4 separate regions of the Homo sapiens genome follow, and all the other regions are reported to be linked to region 3. The links are microRNA targets in miRTarBase. Many come from high-throughput screens and were not tested one by one. Region 3 holds a microRNA gene; each other region holds the end of a gene's coding sequence. Distances are from middle to middle.
What was found. Region 3 holds the annotated microRNA hsa-miR-216a-5p (UAAUCUCAGCUGGCAACUGUGA, at 2,164-2,185, shown strand). A microRNA usually pairs through its seed, bases 2 to 8, with sites in the 3' UTR of a target mRNA and lowers its output. Matches are read on the target gene's strand: a 7mer-m8 pairs with bases 2 to 8, a 7mer-A1 pairs with bases 2 to 7 and ends in A, and an 8mer does both.

Region 1 (3,169 bases), 150 Mb from region 3:
TAGATCTGGGGATTTTTTTACTTTTAAAATTTAAATCCAAAATTATTTCCAAATAAAAAGTTTTAAAACTTCTACCTAGTTTAAACATCCACCATTAAGAGTCCAGTCTCAACTTCTGCTACTAGCCCTTTCCCTCCACACATACCCTGAGCTCCAGTCATAACAACGTCATTGTCATTTTCCTAAATGTCCTTACCTTCTAGTCTTCCTTGGCAACTGCAAGATCTTATTCAAGGCAACACATGAATCCATCTCCTTAAAATGCCCTTCCCTGATCTCTGCAGGCAAATTATTTTCTTTACTGTGAGAAATGATTTCTTTTTACATGCCTACCTTCACCAGAATATGATACAGAAAAGTGAGACTCCATTTCGTGTGACCTTGAGCATGTTACTTAACTTTGGTATGCCTAAGTTTTCTTATTTATAGTATGGAGATAACAGCACCTACTCACAGGGATATTTTGTGGATTAACTAGGTTAACTCATGTAAAGTACTTACAAATGCCTGAAAAATAGTATGGACTCCATAATGTTAATTATTATGGTGATGGTGGTTGTGGTGCTGGTGATATGTAACAGAAACATGCTAGAATAATAGTAGGAGAGATTGTGATATATTCTACATGAAACATGGAAGAAACTCATTAAATATTTTCAGGTGAATGAATCAAAGTGATCAGGGATTACATAATTATATGATTATAGGGGACCAGCCTGCCCAACATGGCGAAACCCCGTCTCTACTAAAAATACAAAATATTAGCCAGGCTTGTTGGCGGGCACCTGTAATCTCAGCTACTCAGGAGGCTGAGGCAGGAGAATCGCTGGAACCCAGGAGATGGAGGTTGCAGTGAGCTGAGATCGCGCCACTGCACTCCAGCCTGGGTGACAAGAGCAAAACTCCGTCTCAAAAAAAAAAAAAAAAAAAAAAAAAGATTACAGGGAAGAAGTAATGAAAGTCTTGACCACAGGAAGAACAAGGAAGTGAGGGGGAGAGAAGATGAATTACTTTAAGCATTCGTCTAGAGCTATACAAAGTGGTAATCAATTGACTGTGAGGTAACAAGGAAGAAATAAAAGCTGTTATAGCATAATTATCTTAGGACCTTCACAAAGCCATAGTTTCGGTGGTAAATTGGGGATATGGCATCAGTGTGCTCATTGGCACTATTTCCATCAGACAATGCTGGTCAGCCTCTGATTGGGTTAAGTTACTTTTCTGAGTTATGCAAGACATTTGTTTGAAAGTTTACTATATATTTGTGGCAATCTTTAATCAGTTTGTGGTTGTAGTTATACATTAGAAAGGATCCAGATCAAAGATGGTTTATAGCCATATAACCACATAATGTTATGATGAGACTTAAAAGCAAGGGAGGGACAAGAAAAAATGAAAAATGTGACAGCTAAAACTTATTTTTAACATTAATTTTCTCATCCCTATATGGGTTTGCATGGAAAAAATAAATAAGCAATGCAATCCTGGCCCAAAACCCTATTTTATCATAGAAGTAAACTGATTTTTGTACAGCAACATAAAATAAAACCAGATTCAACTGCATTACCTCTTAATAGTATTTTATTTAAAAGTTCACAATTAGAGCACTTGTAATAACAGAAAATATTTAAAAGTAACAAAGGCTGCCCTTGGGGAGAGACTTTTTTCTTATATGTAGAAGGAATGGTGTCCTTGCCCTTACAGTGGGTGGAATTAATAGTGCAGTGTGGGACCCCATAGTTCAACAGAATCCATCGTCTTAAGGGAATGAACCTTACTTCCAAGTTATTCCAAAACTGGGGGAGAGTGTGAATGACAAAAATCTGATTATTTCACTCGGGCCAAGTTAAAATCCAATGATAAAAACAACAACACATCTACATAAACACTGTCTACCATCTGCTGATATAGTCCAGAAAACAAAACTGCAAACCAGTATTCCTTAAAGAAATCCATAGTCTAAAGCAGGAGAATCGCTTGAACTTGGGAGACGGAAATTGCAGTGAGCCGAGATTGTGCCACTGCACTCCAGCCTGGAGAGTGTGACTCCATCTCAAAAAGAAAAAAAGAAAAAGAAAAAGAAAAGAAAAGTCCATACTCTAAATGCCTCTGTCACATTTCTCAACTTCAATATAATGGGAAGGGATAACAATATTCCTGGATTAGCCAAATGGGTGAGAATGAGGATCCAAAAAGAAGCAATACACAAACATCATGATGGAAGGTTCATAAATTAAATCTATATTTAATTTTATCAAGTTTTTAGAGTATTCTGCCCTGTTAAAGTGTCCTGAGTTTGCAGATAGTGTTTTAAAAATAGAGTATCTTAAAGTATAGAAAGAGTTCAGAAAATAGAACAGCAACTTTTCCTACCTTGATCACCATTAATCAGCACCATAAAAAGTAAAAAGCTACACATAAGCACATAGGCAAGCCTAGTCCACCAAAAATACAGTATTAGTAAATGGATGAAATCTCATGAAGAGTAACTTAGGAAGGACTGTAAGGTTTTGAAGAAGTGACTGACAATTTAATTGCAAAAGACACAGAATATTAAGGCATAACAAAGTAAACTGAAATGAAGTTTAGTTATCAATATTCATCTCTGAGAAAGTTGTGAATCAGTTCCTTTAGATAACATGTGGCTCAGGTTGATTTAATAATGGGGCTGGGGTGTCTGCATCTCTATGCTGCTTTTCCAGCACTGTACTGCCTGTAGTGGAAAAGACTCTTGGAGTCCACCTTGCGAGATTTCTGCACAGCTTCAGCAAAAAGTTTGGTCACCTGAAAATATAATGGTAGGAATCAGCACCCTCCATGAGATAAAAGTGAATTTTTAATGAATGAAGACAAAAGTCACAAGTGTCTGTCCCCAGTTTTCAAAGGGGTATGGGATAAAAGGCATAAAAGTTTTTTATGTAATGGAGACTTTCTCCCATGTCTCAGACCTCACCATGGGGACTTTCTTTTATATCTCAGATGTCACTGTGAATACGCTTATTTCTCCTCCCATAGGGATTAAAACTGATTCTGCATAAAAAATAAATATGATAGGCAGAAAGTTAATGAGTCTCCACTCTGTTTCTCCCTGTGATAAATTCGATGGGTCATGTCCAAGTGAAACTGAACATGCCTCATGCAATCATTTTCTGTGAATTGAACAAGCACT
Region 2 (3,169 bases), not on the chromosome of region 3:
AGCCATGGTGGCACATGCCTATAATCCCAGCTACTTGGGAGGCTGAGGCAGGAGAAACGCTTGAACCCAGGAGGCGGAGGTTGCGGTGAACCAAGATCGCGCCACTGTACTCCAGCCTGAGCAAAAAGAGCAAAACTCTGTCTCAAAAAAAAAAAAAAAAGAAAAAAGAAAAAAAAAGAAACTTTCATGATGTAATGTTTTCTTGCTTTGCATGTTTCTGTTCTGACATTTGTACTTAGGATTTGTTTTAATCAGCAATGGTGACACAGAAACAATTGCCTATGGAAGATTACTTTCATCTCCCAAGAGGGCGTGCCATGCCACACCAGGCCACATGAGGAAACACCAAAGTCAGTCAGGCAGTAAAGAAGCAAGTGAAAAGCCTAGGCCAGAGCTTTGTTGCTACAGTGGTTGAAAGGTGTGGGGACACCCACTATTGGGCAGGAAGTGAAATACTATATGTTGGGGTTTGTGGTTGGAGGGACTGTAATGTGATGTTTGCACACCCATAAAAGCTGGATTGTAAGGGAAAGCTAAACAACTTTTGTTGTTAGTTTGGCCCTGTGATTAATGGATGCTAAATACATAATCTAAGGAAACATGGAACTTCTTCTTCTGAAAATGTAGGTTTATGTCTTTTTAAAAATAAATTTATATAATAGCCTTAACCTTTGAGACTTATTTTCCTCTTTGAACAATAAATTAGTATATTTTCTCTTCTGTCTACCACTTTATTTTGGTTGATATTATTTATGTGTTGACTTTTGTGAAATGTTTTAAATTCTATTAATAGATTTTTTTTCAGCTTTAAATATCTCTTATTTAGTTTGGAGAAAGAGTCTCACTCTGTTGCCCAGGCTGGAGTGCAGTGGTACGATCTTGGCTCACTGCAACCTCTGCCTCCCGGGTTCAAGTGATTCTCCTGCCTCAGCCTCCTTAGTGGCTGGGACTACAGGCACACACCACCATGCCTGAGTTATTTGCTTTAAATATCTTTTAACTCCTAGCTTTTAAAGACTTCACTATATTTATACTACTATCTACTTTCTCCATTTTTTTTTTTTTTCTTTAAGAGACAAGGTCTTGCTCTCTTGCCCAGGCTGGAGTGCAGTGGTATAATCATAGCTCACTGTAACCTCAAACTCTCGGGCTCAAGTGATTTCCTACTTCAGCCTCCACAGTAGGTAGGACAATAGGCATGCACCACCGTGCCCAGCTAATCTATTTTTTGTAGAGATAGGGTCTCAATGTGTTGCATAGGCTGGTCTCAAAACTGGCTTCAAGTGATCCTCCTGCCTCGAACTCCCAAAGCTCTGGGATTATAGATGTGAGCCACTGCACCTGGCCCCTTTTGATTCCTGATTTTTCCTTCCTCACTTAAAAATTTACATTGTGGTCTATGGCAATAGTCTCCACATCTTAGTTCTGGTCCTATAGTTAAACATCTGATATACACTGCCAGTTCTTTTTATTTACATTTTCCATTCATCTTCGTTTGCGGGAAGCCGTATTTTAGTAGATTCTCCAACAATGGTTCACATTTCCTGAGTTCTTGTATGTTACAAAGTGTTTGTTGGATTTATACATGATTGATAGTTTGGCTGGCAACCCTGTAACATTTGAATCCTCTCACAACATATGAGAAATTCTGGTCTTATTGATCCCACCACCTGAAAGTAGAACCAGGAAAACTCCCTAGCAGCCTATGAAAGGGGCATATAACATACCCTTTTTCAATCAGATGTCTTTGTATGCAACTTCTTTTTTGAATTCAGCAATTTAGGGAGGCATCTCATGCAGAATCCTTTTGTTGCTGTTCCGGTGCGGGTGGGGGCATTCTTCTACCTATTCCTGCTGCAGAAGTGGCAAAGGTGGGGCAGGGAGGCAGCAGCACTTTCTTCCAGTGCCCTGTGTGGCAGTGGAGTGTCAGCAGCTTCTTCCTTAGTCCAATTCTAAGGCATGGTTTTACAAATTGCTGCTGGAAGCTTACCCTCCTGGTTCACCTGCCTTCTAATAATTCCGTGAGCCAAACAAAATTCTTTCAAAAAACTTCTCCTGCTTAATCAGTCTGTTTCTATTGTTTCAAGCAAGACTACAAACTACAGCCTGTGGAATAAATGAGACCTATTATTAAATAGCTAAAAACAAAACTCAAGTATTTTGTATTCTTGACATGGGAAAATTTTATGAAATTCAAATTTTAGTGTCCATAAATAAAGTTTTATTGGAACACAGAATATGTAATATATTCATTGGTTTATGTATTTGTCTGTATGCCTACATCTGATATGCAAAACTATGAAATATTCATACATATAAAAGGCAGGTCAAAAATACAACTATAAAAAATTTATAAGTAATTTACTTTTAGCCCTTTGGAGAATTTATTTAACAATTAACACATGGCTACCACTACAATTTTTTTTATTTTTTTGAGTCAAGAGTTACTTTATTGCCCAGGCTGGAGTGCAGTGATTGGTGTGATTGTGGCTCACTGTAACCTCAAACTCCTGGGCTCAAAGAATCCTCCTGCCTCAGCCTCACAAGTAGCTGAGACTATAGGCATGTGCCACCATACCCAGCTAAGTTTAAATTTTTTTTTTTTTTTTTTAAGAAATGGGGTCTTGCTATGTTGCCCAAGGTTGGTCTCGAACCCTGGCCTCAAGGAATCCTCTCACCTCAGCCTCCTGAGTCACTGTGATTACAGTGTGAGCTACTGCATCTGGAGACTTTATCACTTCTTAAATTAGTTTATTATATTTAATGCTTTTTTCCTATTATAATACTTTTGGGACATCATTTTTCAGAGAACAGTATTTGACTGTGTGTGTGTGTGTGTGTGTGTGTGTGTGTGTGTGTGTGTGTGTCTGTCTGTCTGTGCGTGCACGCATATCTTCACTGAGATGGCTTTAATCTGCAATAAACCCAGGAGGCCCTAACTTGGTGAAGTCCTTTTACATAGTTTGAAGCTGGTAAACTTTTGGGCCTTTTTTCAAGAGGTAACCCTGGTCATTTAGTGATCCAATAAAATTTTCAAAATCAGCAACCTGGAAGAAAACATCAAAAGGTTTAGCCCATTAAGTAACATGTCAAAATATTACTTTTAAAATAAATCTCTCAAATAATAATATGTACCTGTAAAGTTTCTTGGCCAAATAAAATTATTTTT
Region 3 (3,169 bases):
ACCAAACTGAAATTTATTACTCTCAAATACAAATCTATAGAGAGTCTCTAACAGAACTAAGATCACAAATGCATACATTGCGGTGCACCCAAAATATGCATATAGAGACATCTTAGATAATATCCTCAGAATACTTGAACAGAATGTATAGATAGTGTTAGAAACAGCTTACTCCTTGATACTTTGCTACTGTATTTCAGTTTATCTGGCCTGTGGACTATCTATCCACATTAATATAGCTTTGTTGCCAAAACAACTTTGTATCAGTTTCTTCCTTTTTCTTTTTTAAATGCCCATCACAGCAACCCACTAAGGTAGGCAAGGCAGAAACGTATATGTCTTTGCTTCCATTGAGAGCCCACCTCCCTGTGCAGTTGTGGACATGACAACTTAAGATTAATAAAAAGCTGTCTCATCTTCCACATCAGCATATGATGTTCCCATTTATGATCTTTTCTTAATGTTTTCTAGCAGAGGGAAGAAGAACTACATACTCCTGTCACTTCTCTATGGTAACTTTTCACTATTAAACTTTCTAGAGAGAAAGGAAAATCAAATATAAGATTAAGAGAAAAGAAAAAACTGAACGTCATTCATGTTGCTCTGAGAAGCCCTTGTTTTTTGATTAAGATAAAATCTGCTTATTTTTAATCCTGAGCAATTTGACTCCAGAAAATAAACTTAGAACAATATTTAAAAAGTTAAATCCTAATGATGAGACATTCTTATTTTACAAAAGTAGCTTTGTACTTAGGAGTCCATATGAGGCACAAGATTATATTCAATTGTTCTTTCTCAATTGTTTTGTAACTTTATATTTACCTGACTTTTAAAACGAAAAGCCACTTTTCTAACTCTGTAAATTACCACTCTCTTAATTGTGTCAAGTCTCAATTATTAAAGGACAAGTTATGAGCTGAAATCCATAATTCTTTGCTTCAACAAACATTTGATTTAGTTTGACAAAATTTTTTTGAGCACTTATTAAACATCAGATGCTAAACTGAGAATAGTATAGTTGAGGATATAGAGATGAATAAGCACAGTGCCAACACTTGGAAGTTTGCAGTCAATGAAGGAGAAAGCATGTGAGTGAGAAAACACCATTGTGTATTACAGGTGCCAAAAAAGGGAGACTGGGGAGAGAAGGCAGTGTGTGATAGTTTTCAATGTGTGACTGTCACACAAGGGGGTGTGTGTGTGTGTGTGTGTGTGTGTGTGTGTGAAAGAGAGAGAGAGGAGGGAGAGAGAAAGAAGAAATAATTCCAAGTATGGGCAAACACAGCTCATTGGATTCTCAGAACTTGTTAGAGCTGGAGTCTACAATGTAGAGGAAGAAATGGTCTAGTATGAAGTGAAGCTGGAGAAAGGCAGTGGAAAATCTCCACCGAAGTGCAAATCGCAGCCACCAAAACCAGACCTACTGAATCAAAATATAGAGGTAGGTCCTGGGGATCTACATTTGTAACAAGTTTCCTATGTGCTTCTTACACTCACTCAAGTTGAGATGCCATCCACGGCAGATGGTGGGGAAACTCTGAGGGCGTTTCCTCTTCCTTCCGTTCTTAATCATTATTCTTACCATTGATTAGCCCCACCCAGTGGACTGAGGGGCTTAGATCATGGCTCAGTCTCACTTAGCCATGACAGTGATGTGGGCAAGAGGGGAGGACATACCACCATCTATGAAAGGTAATAGCCACCGCTATTGACACATCTGGCCATTTGGTGAGTATACGGTCATTACTTTTTCAACGTAATTGCTGGTTTTCTTGTCTGAGGACAAATTTTAGAGTGTTTGGCTTTGATGTTTCCAAGTTCTCTATAAAGCTTGTTTAAAAAATCATTTTTAGTGATTGGTTTTACATTCACCTGTACTCCTACTTGGCTGTTTCTTACTATATATGGATTAGAGTAAATCCTTTCTAAATGCAAAGATTATACTTTTATGACATTACATGCAATATAGCATATGCCAGAAATCTGTGAATTCAGCAAGAGGAGTAGCTTGATAATGTCGCCTCAAGAAAAATGCAGAGGGGTACATCAGGGCTTCTGCTGGTGCACTCGATGTATGAAGATGTGCTTCCACCTGAGGCAGCCACGTGCCTCTGCTCATACACTTTCTCTTGCAGGTCTAACACGGATGGCTGTGAGTTGGCTTAATCTCAGCTGGCAACTGTGAGATGTTCATACAATCCCTCACAGTGGTCTCTGGGATTATGCTAAACAGAGCAATTTCCTAGCCCTCACGAATCAAAAGACTTGCATGGCAACCAAAATTAAACACCAAATTTCTATTTCATGACCAAGACGGGGGGAAAAGTTTCGATGGTTACTGTTTCATGCTCAACCTCTTTTAATCTTAGTAAAGTCTTTTTCTAAAGTGCTGTTGTGCTGGAAAGGAAACCAGCCTTGGGAATTAATTTGCCTTTATTGGATTCGCTTGCTACTTACTGCGCTCCTTCAGTGCTACTTGGTTTTTTAAAAAATTGCAGCCAAGGGAGTTTGGGTGTTAGAAGCTGAACCCAAAATATTTTCCCTCTGAAAGCTCCTCCCACTCTCTTTGTGGGTGCTACTCCATCAAATTCCAAACAGTCTAAAAGAGGACGATCTCCTGCCAGGCCCTCCTCAAACTTCAACTCCCCAGATTATCACATTTAATCGCCCTTCCTCATTCCTTCTGTAAGTGTTTCACATTCATCTGCCCTAAATAATATTGAAATTTAGAATCAACTATGGCTTAGGCTGAGGTTGCCATGAAACTTTTGAGCTGTACCCAACTCTAATTCTCGGTGATCCCTGGAAACAGATAATCCTTTTCCATAAAAAGAATAAGAACAAATGTAATTCTTCAGGGTGAAAAATCAAGGCCAGTTATCTTCCTCATTCACCCAGTAACACAAAACAAATCAGATGAACCAAATTTATAATTAAATGTGGGATAACTTTAACAACAAAAATTATTAAAATGCTATTTCCAAGGTCTTGACTGGCACATATCCCCTCAGGTATCCTCAGAAAGAGAAGTCTGTATATCTCAGTTTGATTAAATTACATTTCTGGGCCGGGCGCAGTGGCTTACGCCTGTAATCCCAGCACTTTGGGAGGCTGAGGCAGGCGGATCATGAGGTCAGGGGATCGAGACCATCGTGGCTAACACGGTGAA
Region 4 (3,169 bases), not on the chromosome of region 3:
AGGCAGATTGGCACAAGACAGACCTGGCCCAGAGACCCGCCAACTTGGGGCTCATGCAGAGCCTGCTGCTGCAGAGGAAAGCCAGCGGGCTCCACGAGGCTGACCAAAATGCAGCCACGCGGCTGATCAGACATGCCATCGGGAACAATGAGTATGGGGAGATGGAGGCAGAGCGGCTGGCGGCGATGCTGACATTGCCAGAGGACTTGGCGAGGATGTACAGGGATGATATCACTGTCACTGTGGTGTATTTTAACTCAGAATCAATCGGTGCATATTACAAGGGGGGTTAAGAATCTCCCATCCTATTGTCAAGGTTAACATAAATGCTCTTCTAAAATGTTTCACTTACTCCTAAACTAGCTATCCAAACCTTACTATTAAAAGCGCAGGCAGATTTAATTTGCTAAATAGACTAACAGGAGGAAAAAAACAAACAGCCTAGCTTTAAAAAACAGTGAAATAGCAGTGATTTCATGTCCCTGTATGTTCTGATTAAGTCTTATATGCAGAGAGGACAGAGCATAAAGTCTATAGAATTGGCTTGGGCTTGTGTAGCCCCAGTCATTTGATAAAGATGTTGTTAAACTGTGTCAGCCTGAGCCTTCAAAGGGTAAATTTAATCATGATTCTGAGAATAAAGAACTTCAGGAGCTTCTTAGGTCTTGCCACAAAAATCTGCAAATTTGATAATTCTCCTGAATTCACAATCATGGACTTGTAGACTATGAAGAGATATTTTATTTGTTTGTCTTTTATTTAAATTACTAAGGTCTAGGTTTACAAAGCATACTACAGGACCCTTTTCTATGCAATATCCTAACTTTTTTTTTTGTGATTATGCTTGTGAGAAATTTTGTAATACTACATTCTAGTTCTGTTTTCGTTTATTTTAAAACTGAATCCTTAAACTTGCAAACACGCCTACTGTAAGCATGCTTGGAATGACTTGTTTTGGTTTTCAGCTGATAGGATCTATGCCTCTGGACCAGCTGAACTTACTGGTGCAGCTTTTTGTGCCCTCTACTGAGTCCCATTCCAGAAACTTTGAGCCATGCTAGGAGGTAACTAGTCTATGCCTTAACTCCTGACCTTTCCTGCATTAGTAAAATTTCCTCCTGGGCTGAGCCTTTGGGGGTTGATTCACAGCATTTAAGCTTTCTGATTATACCTCTCAAACATTCTTCTGTCAATTCCACACAATCCTTCTACCTCTGCTATGCTGAACCCCTCATTCACCCTGCACCTGCCAACTGCAAAATATTGTCTGAAAGAATCTTTCACATGTTCCTGCTTCCTATGGCTGCAGGAAAGGAGAAAATGTGATTGCATGTGGTAGTTGTGGTGATAGACGTTTAGACAGGACAGGTTAATTTAGCGGATTGTGGACTTAAGATTCAACCTCTATCTGGAGAGGTGAAAACACAAAGGCTTAAGGACAACAGTTTCTAACCAAGTTTCTCTGAATCCTTTCCTGAGAGGTGGTGGGCAGGAGGGAGGAGTGAGACTTATCAGATGGGACGCTTGCCCCAAGACTGTGGGATAAACCACCATTGCTAGTCCTCAGGAATTAGACCATATTTAGTATAGGAGTTGGGGCAAAAATAAAAGTGTAATTTGTAATGGTTTCTGTGGGCTGTAGACTCTTTGTATTTACTTGGAAATTCAGTTATGTGGATCCATTTTGGAGATGAATTTCATCTCATGAGTTGCTGTGGCATTTAAACAACAGGAAATGTGTCCCTAAATGGAAACAAATATAATCCCACAAAACCAACAATTTTATTTGCCTCTACTACGTCAGGCAGAATTCTTCAATTAAGTTGAACTACATTTGTTGATCCCTTTTCTCATCTTACCCCTTTATGCCACCTACTGAAAAGAAAAACAAATAGCTAGGTTTGGTTTCCTGTTTTTTGTCTATGTCCCAGCTGACATTCAGTCAAATGTTGGGATACTTCTAATTTGGTGGTGTTTCTTTGTACATTTTTCAGTGCAACTGTTTAGTCATGTGTTTTCATCTAAGAAATTATCTTTTGAATATTTAAGCCTTGATCCTTTTATTCTGAAACCATTAATATTCCTTCTTGGCTGGGTGCAGTAGTTTACGCCTGTAATCCCAGCACTGTGGGAGGCCGAGGCGGATGGATCACCTGAGGTCGGGAATTCGAGACCAGCCTGACCAACATGGAGAAACTCCATCTCTACTAAAAATACAAAATTAGCCAGGTGTGGTGGTGCATGCCTGTAATCCCAGCTACTCGGGAGGCTGAGGCAGGAAAATCACTTGAACCCGGGAGGCGGAGGTTGCGGTGAGCCAAGATCGCACCATTGCACTCCAGCCTGGGCAACAAGAGTGAAACTCTGTCTCAAAAAAAAAAAAAAAAAATCCATCTTATCTCTTAGTCCGTCCTTCCTTCCTTCCTTCCTTCCTTCCTTCCTTCCTTCCTTCCTTCCTTCCTTCCTTCCTTCCTTCCTCTCTCTCTCTTTCTTTCTTTCTTTCCTTCTTGACAGGGTCTCCCTGTAGCCAGGCTGGAGTGCAATGGCATGATCTTGGCTCACTGCAACCTCTGCAGCCCAGGCTCAAACGATCCTCCTGCCTCAGCCTCCCGAGTAGCTGGGACTATGCACCACCATGCCTGGCTAATTTTTTTAATTTTTTGTAGAGACAGGGTTTTGCCATGTTGCCCAGGCTGGTCTCAAACTCCTAGACTCAAGCAATCTGCCCACCTCGGCCTCCCAAGGTGCTGGGATGATAGGCATGAGCCACCGCACCCAGCCTATCTCCTAGATCTTGAATCAAAAATAAAATGTAAATCACTTCCATTCTGCTAGCATGAGGGTTTGTTGCTAAAATTGAGGATTCTATCTGACGTTTACTTTTTGTTGTTTTTTGAGACAAGGTCTTGCTTTGTCGCCCATGCTGGAGTGCAGTGGCATCATTATAACTCACTGTCAAACTCCTGGACTCCAATGTTCCCTCCCCTTTTAGCCTCCCAAGTAGCTGGGTCTACAGGCATGAACCATCAGGCCCAGATAATTAAAAAAACTTTTTTTGGTGAAAACATGATCTTGCTATGTTGCTCAGGCTGGTTGTCTGGCATTTTCTTTGTCCTTTATTCTTTATACTAGCTAAACCCTGGAGTATCCTTGAAGCCTTTACTGGCAT

Region 1: the mRNA of CPS1 is a reported target of hsa-miR-216a-5p. Seed matches in the 3' UTR shown: 7mer-m8 at 2,473-2,479.
Region 2: the mRNA of MCM8 is a reported target of hsa-miR-216a-5p. The part of its 3' UTR that is shown has no 7-base or 8-base seed match.
Region 4: miRTarBase lists PDP2 as a target of hsa-miR-216a-5p. The part of its 3' UTR that is shown has no 7-base or 8-base seed match.

Annotation. Positions count from the first base shown.
Region 1 is chr2:210,677,502-210,680,670 of GRCh38, reverse strand. It overlaps CPS1 (carbamoyl-phosphate synthase 1), which reads right to left. Exons shown (of 38, transcript NM_001875.5): 38 at 1,564-2,784. The coding sequence ends at 2,686. Among named protein-coding and RNA genes, the nearest start is that of CPS1-IT1, 62 kb to the right of the region's middle.
Region 2 is chr20:5,994,177-5,997,345 of GRCh38, reverse strand. MCM8 (minichromosome maintenance 8 homologous recombination repair factor) reads right to left here. Exons shown (of 19, transcript NM_032485.6): 19 at 1-3,047. The coding sequence ends at 2,955. All of the region lies in intron 3 of MCM8-AS1 (MCM8 antisense RNA 1), which reads left to right. Among named protein-coding and RNA genes, the nearest start is that of MCM8-AS1, 10 kb to the left of the region's middle.
Region 3 is chr2:55,988,036-55,991,204 of GRCh38, reverse strand. It overlaps MIR216A (microRNA 216a), which reads left to right and starts at 2,146; the gene lies at 2,146-2,255. The region is part of intron 2 of MIR217HG (MIR217 host gene); the gene reads left to right. All of the region lies in intron 3 of LOC105374690 (a long non-coding RNA gene), which reads right to left.
Region 4 is chr16:66,885,582-66,888,750 of GRCh38, forward strand. It overlaps PDP2 (pyruvate dehydrogenase phosphatase catalytic subunit 2), which reads left to right. Exons shown (of 2, transcript NM_020786.4): 2 at 1-3,169. The coding sequence ends at 293. Among named protein-coding and RNA genes, the nearest start is that of PDP2, 6.7 kb to the left of the region's middle.